Homo sapiens: one gene and its partner. The protein of the gene in region 1 purifies or fractionates together with the protein of each later gene. This does not show direct contact. Each region holds a gene or a part of one and is shown on either strand. Other genes may lie near its edges.

Region 1 (3,500 bases):
GTGCAGTGGCACAATCTTGGCTCACTGCAACCTCTGCCTCCTGGGTTCAGGTGATTCTCCTGCCTCAGCCTGCCGAGTAGCTGGGATTACAGGCGTCTCCACCACCATGCCCGTCTAATTTTTGTAGTTTTAGTAGAGATGGGGTTTCACCATGTTGGCCAGGCTGGTCTTGAACTCCTGACCTCAGGTGATCCCCCCGCCTCAGTCTACCAAAGTGCTGGGATTACAGGCAGGAGCCACTGCACCCGGCCTGTCCCTTTTTCAAAAGATTTGGTTGGACAAAAAGTCTTAGATGAAGCAGAATTTGAAGACTGGTTTCAAGGAGGTACGGGGAAACACTAAGTGGGTGAATCTTTTAAAATTAGCCCAGAACCTGAAAATATAGCTGGGCGCGGTGGCTCACGCCTGTAATCCCGGCACTTTGGGAGGCTGAGGTGGGTGAATCACCTGAGGTCAGGAGTTCGAGACCAGCCTGACCAACATGGAGAAACCCCATCTCTACTAAAAATACAAAATTAGCCAGGCGTGCTGGTGGGCGCCTGTAATTCCAACTACTCGGGAGGCTGAGGCAGGAAAATCACTGGAACCCGGGAGGCGGAGGTTGCGGTGAGCCGAGATCACGCCATTGCACTCCAGCCTGGGCAACAAGAGCGAAACTCCGTCTCAAAAAAAATAAAAAATAAAAAATAAAAAATAAAATAAAATTAGCCCAGAACGTGAAAATATACATAAATATATTTCTGCTTATCAGAAGCCCCCTCCCACTACAAAGAGGCTCTTCATAAGCAGATGGACAATATGACCCTCTATCTGTAGATGGCATTCAACTGCCTTCCTTGACCATCCCGGTGCTTACTCAGTTGGGTGATAAACAAAGCAAATAGGGTAGCAAGGACAGAAAATGCACATGGGCTGAACAATAGGGGCTTCCTGTCACCAAGATGGTTGTGTTCCCCTACACAACCAACCCTGAGCACCCAACAATGGCAACACATTTCAGAGCTCCAGTCAGCTGCTGAATGGAAGAACTACATCCCCCTGTCCTGGGGAGGGGAACAGACATTTGCTTTAATTACAATAGGCATACATGCTAAACTTGAATTTTTAATTTCTTCCTTTCATGCTTATGCCAACTGTACCAGGTATCATGAGATAGCCGCGCAATAGTTATTACCTCCGTCTTCTTCGTGGGAAGAGCCCCACTTTTGTTTGCGACTGTTCCCCTACTCCCCACGGTGCAGATATGAGCCCAGTGGTCTAATCCAGTCTTGCTGATCCAGTGCTGGTGCTATGGTTTGAAGGTTTGTGTCTCTTCCAAAATTCAGGTTGAAATTTAATTTCCAATGCAACGGTATTTAGAGGTGGGCCTTTGGGAGATTGATTAGGCCATGAGAACTCCACCTTCATTGATGGGACTAGTGCTTTATAAAAGGGCTGGAGGGAACTAGGCAGGCTCTTTTTGCCTTTTGCCCTTTTGTCTTTCACCATATGAGGACACAGCATTCGCCCTTTCTGCCATGTGAGGACACAGGGACAAGGCACCATCTTGGAAGCAGAAAGAGTAGCCCTCACGGTACACTGCATCTGCTGGGTGCCTTGATCTTGGACTTCACAGCCTCCAGAACTGTGAGAAAGTAAATTTCTGTTCTTTATACATTATCCAGTCTCAGTTATTTTGTTATGGCAACAAAAATAGACTAAGATTGCTAGTAAGCGAGCTGTTTTGAGACAGGGGCTCACTGTGTCATCCAGGCTGGAGTACAGTGGCACAATCAAGGCTCACTGCAGCCTCGATCTCCTGGGCTCAGGTGATCTTCCTGCCGCAACCTCCCGAGTAGCTGAGTCTACAGGCATGCACCACCATAACTGGTTAATTTTTTTTTTTTTGAGATGGAGTCTTGTTCTGTTGCCCAGGCTGGAGTGCAGTGGTATGATCTTGGCTCACTGCAACCTCTGCCTTGCGGGGTCAAGCGATTCTCCTGCCTCAGCCTCCCGAGTAGCCAGGACTACAGGCGTGTGCCACCACGCCCTGCTAATTTTTGTATGTTTAGTAGAGATAGGTTTTCACCATGTTGGTCAGGCTGGTCTCAAGCTCCTGACCTTAGGTGATCCACCCGCCTCAGCCTCTCAAAGTGCTGGGATTACGGGCATGAGCCACTGCACCCAGCCCATTCCTAGCTAATTTTTTGTAGAGATGGGGTCTCACCATATTGCCCAGACTGTTCTCAAACTCCTGGACCCATGCAATCTGCCCCGCTCAGCCTCCCAAAATGCTGGGATTATGTGGGTGAGCCACCATGCCTCACCAGGCCTGGCTTCTAAGAACTTCTTTCATGCTATGAGCTGCCCCACTATCCTTCCAGCTATTACATTTTTGATTCTGTTATCAGAGTCAGTTTGTATTCTTTGAAATCCAAGAACTGCATTAGATATGCAGGAGGAGAGTGAGGCCCAGGAAGAAAATAACTTGTTTAAGGTCAGTTAGCACTTGTTGGCAGACATGAAATTAGAAACCAGGAGTCCTCCCTCTCTTGTAGCACAGGACTGTTTGCTCTACCAAACCCTTGAAGACGTGTCTTGCAAGGTGAAACTCCAGGCAGAGTAAGAGGCTGGATGAGGAGCTGATCTGGGCCTGGAGCTTGCCGGGCCTCTTCCTTCTTCCACATTCCTCAGCCTGCAGGCTGCAGCGCTCCTCATTAAAGGGCATTCAGGGGGTATGCAGGAAGCACTTACCTTCCCAGCGTGATGGCCAAGGGACCTGCAAGCAGTGCTCCAAAGAGGCCTCCCAGGGGATACAGAGACACGATGAGGGACCACATAAGCAGGACTAGGTGATCGGGCAGTGGCTCTCCAGTACGCGCCTGCCATGTCTCATTGGTGAATTCCTGAATGTGCTGTGGACAGAAATGCCAGTCAGCCTTCTGGGGATGGTGGCGTGGGGGTGCTAGATGAAACAAGCCTTCTCCCCAACAGGGCTCCATGCCTCTGCAGAACAGGCAATGACAACAGGCACCGTGTCTTCTGAGCTCCCCCTGGAGCAGGAACCAACTCGCCTGAGCACCTCCCTTGTGCAGGGCACCATGCTGGTTCTTTCATGGGCAATATCTCTCAGAGCCTAGCACTGGACTCGCTCCATTTGCCCCTCTCTGCGAAAACACTATTTCTCTCTACTCACACAATACTCCTGACAGCAAATGTGTGGATATTTTCCCACATCAAGCAATTCTCTAACTCTCCGGACACAAGCTGGGTGTACTACAATGTAATCCCATTCTGACACTATCCACCTGGAGTTAGCATCAAATCCCACAAGTCAAAGGGCTCCATTCCACAAGACTGTCCCCTCTTCAGATGCCAAGTGCAACTCCTGCACTTCTGACCAACTGGCCATCAATTGGGGATTCCTAGGATCCTTTCTGTGGGTTTGATAATTTGCAACAATGGCTCACGAAACTCAGGAAGGCCCTTTACTTACATTTACTGGTTTGTTATGAAGGATA
Region 2 (3,500 bases), on another chromosome or scaffold:
CTTGCCTCAAACTCCTGCTCAACTGATTCTAGATCCTTGCTGTTTCCATCATACCATTGTACCTCTATTCAGATTTTCAAACAGGAGCTTGCTGAGAGCCATAAATAAAGAAATATGTTTAAGAATGATAATTTGGGGAGACTAACCTGTAGGAAAATGTCCTCCAAAGAAGACGTTGAACAGCTCTTCTGGAGTGATGTCAGCTTCAAAATCCCTGTAATAATTATAAGGTCTGGCTCGAGGGGCAGTGAAAGTCACCTGTTCATCTCCGTATTCATCATAGCGAAGTCTCTTATCAGGATTGCTCAGGACTGCAAATGCATTTCCTATTGCTGCAACCAACAAGAACCAGCACATGAGGACACAGTCTTTGCTATGGCTGAGAGTGATCACAGCAGCAGTGACAAAGAGCCTAGAGGTGACTCGTGCTGGACAACTTCGCAGGGGCCCAAGAAGAGATGCTTGGGCCTAGAAAGTTCTCCACAGTGCTTGCCCTTCAGGTTTTCCCTGATCGCCAGAAACAACAACATTGGAATCACAGGAATTAAGAACTTCTGCTGCAGTGAGTTAACTCCCAATCAACAGTCCTGTAGTCATCCCAGCTGTCCTAGAAGTTAGGAAGCCCCCCTCAGTTCGGGTTCCCAGTCACCACAAGTCCCAGGCATGTTGGGGAAATGTTCTCCAACTGGTCAGCACTCTCATTCATAAAAAATGTGTTCTGGCCAGGTGCAGTGGCTCATGCCTATAATCCCAGCACTTTGGGAGGTTGCAGTGAGCCGAGATCATGCCACTGCCTTCCAGGCTGGGCAACAGAGTGAGACTTTGTCACACACACACACACACAAAGAGTGCTCTTTACTTTAAAAAAAATTTTTTTAGAGATAGGGTCTTGCTGCATTGCCCAGACTAGTCTCAGATTCCTGGCCTCTAGTGATCCTCTCACCTTGGCCTCCAAAAGTTTGGGATTATAGGTGTGAGCCCTGCATCTGGCCAAAAAAGTGTTCTTATTTCACTTGAGTGCAATAGTTTATGTTGGAAACAGTTCACACATCAGTAGTGATATTTTAACTTGTAGTCCAAAAAATTTCCTGAATTCTCTTCTGAAACAATCTTAGTAGAAACCTTCCTGCTTGACTAAAAACAAAGTCTTCATCATAGTCTTATTTCAGTTTACTTTAGACAAATATTTTCTGAAATTAAGAAATGTATTTCCAATGTCTCAAGGAGGGTTCAAAGGCTGAATAGTTACATATGTTTACCAACATGTCTCCTTTCTATGTACAGACGTGCAAACCTTGCCCAATTTCATTTAAACATACAATCCGTAGCACCAATCAATAGAAACCTCAAAAAAAAGAAATCTTTTAAGGCATCCCGCACTCCCTACCTGTAATTCAGTCAACACTGTCAGAAACACAGAAAGAGTATTTCTTCATGATTCTTTTACCTGGGGAATTGTTAAATGTTTGCCTTGCCACTCTGTTACCTACAACTCTATATATACATATGTACATATGTATTGTAATAATTATACATTTATTTTGCTGAACCATTTGAAAATAGGCCACAGATATTACGTCACCTTGCCCCTAAATACCTCAACATATATCTCCCAAGAAGAAAGACATTCTCCTATGTGATCACAACACCATTATCACAGCTAAGAAAATTAACATCAGTCCATTATCATCCAATGCATCCATGCAAGATCAAGTATAGCATTTAGTTTCTTTTAAGCTAAAACTGTCCCACCTTTTTTGTTTTTCATTATGTTAAATTTTTTGGAAGAACAGATCAGTATTCTTGTAGAATGTTTCATATTGATTGTTTCCTCATTATTAGATTCAGGTCAAACATTTTGGCAAGAATACCCCATAGGCGACAACTACCTAGCACTCAATGGTTTTAGCATTCACTGAAGATCTTTGCCTGTAACAATGACTTGGAGTGCAGTGGTGCAATCACAGCTCACTGCAGCCTTGACCTCTGGCTCAAGCAATCCTCCCACCTCAGCCTCCCAAAGTGCTAGGATTACAGGTGTGAGCCACTGCGCTCAGCCTGAAGAATATATTTCTTAAAATATCATGGAGGATGGGCACAGTGGCTCACGCCTGTAATATCAGCACTTTGGAAGGCCTAGGCGGGCAGATTACTTGAGCTCAGGAGTTTGAGATCAGCCAGAGCAACATGGCAAAACCCCATCTCCACAAAACATACAAAAATTAGCCGGGCATGGTGGTGCTCACCTGTAGTCCCAGCTACTCAGGAGGCTGAGGTGGGAGGATCACTTGAGCCCGGGAGGTGGAGGTTGCAGTGAGCTGAGATGTCACCACTGCACTCCAGCCTAGGTAAAATCAAGTGGGAGCTATGCTGATTATCACTATTTAAGAGGTGTGGCAGGGGGAAAAAACCCTCCTTATGGCCTTATAAAACAACTATGGGGAAGGCTAAAAGCAACTTATTATGACCAACCATGACAAGGGCACCATTGAGCATTGGTTCAGGATCAGACCTTTGAAAGCATCTGTTGCTCCAGGAGCACAGTTCTTGTCAGGGTGAAATTTCAGGGCGAGTTTTCTGTAAGCTTTCTTAAGCTCTTCGTCACTAGCATCTCGAGAAACTCCCAGAATTTCATAGTAATTTCTGCATTTCTTGATCCTAAAAAAAATCACAAGCATGTATGTCTATAAAGGTCCCTTTTGTACAACTAATTGCAAGATAATACATCGATCCTACCTCCAATCTGTGGGACCCAAAACAAACCTATAAGAAAATTAGTGCACACGTTAATGAAACATTCAAATTCATTAACAATGTCCTTCTCCCACCCAGAACTTAATGCCTTTCAAAGTACTTTTACATCTACTATTTACTCTTCCTATATCCCTGCAAGTGAGTAGAACAAGTATGCTAATTGTTACACCAAGGTTCAGGCTAAGATCCTGAGAGATGAACTACAGGACAGCAAAGCCAGAAGAAACAGTTAATCACCCTGTTTGTTTATAATTTTTTCTCTCTTTTTCCTATGGCTATCTTTTTAAACTGTATTTTTTGCTTTTTTTTTTTTTTTTTTTTGAGACGTAGTCTTGCTCTTGTTGCCTGGGCTGGAGTGCAATGGCGCGATCTCAGCTCACTGCAACCTCTGCCTCCCAGGTTCAAGCAATTCTCCTGCCTCAGCCTCCCGAGTAGCTGAGATTACAGGGATGCGCCACCAGCCCTGGCTAATGTTGGTATTTTTAGTAGAGATGGGGTTTCACCATATTGGTTAGGCTGGTCTCAAACTCCTGACCTTGTGATCTGCCCACCTTGGCCTCCCAAAGTGCTGGGATTACAGGTGTGAGCCACCGTGCCTGGCTAAACTGTGTTTTTAAAAAGTTAACATACACATGATAGAAGAAAAAGAGCCAACAGAACTAAAGTTTATACAGTAAAAATTTTCCTGCTTCATCATTCCCTGTCCCCCAGTTTCCCACCACAGGGATAACCATCATTAGAAGTTT

Evidence for each region.
Region 2: the proteins of SLC2A11 (region 1) and DNAJC18 purify together in Homo sapiens (affinity purification with mass spectrometry; one large-scale study listed by BioGRID and IntAct). This does not show direct contact.

The regions. Positions count from the first base shown.
Region 1 is NC_000022.11:23,867,875-23,871,374, reverse strand, and holds part of SLC2A11 (solute carrier family 2, facilitated glucose transporter member 11), read right to left. Parts: intron 2,895-3,500; coding exon 2,734-2,894; intron 1-2,733. UniProt on the Homo sapiens protein: Facilitative glucose transporter.
Region 2 is NC_000005.10:139,426,026-139,429,525, forward strand, and holds part of DNAJC18 (dnaJ homolog subfamily C member 18), read right to left. Parts: intron 2,659-3,500; coding exon 2,513-2,658; intron 333-2,512; coding exon 147-332; intron 1-146.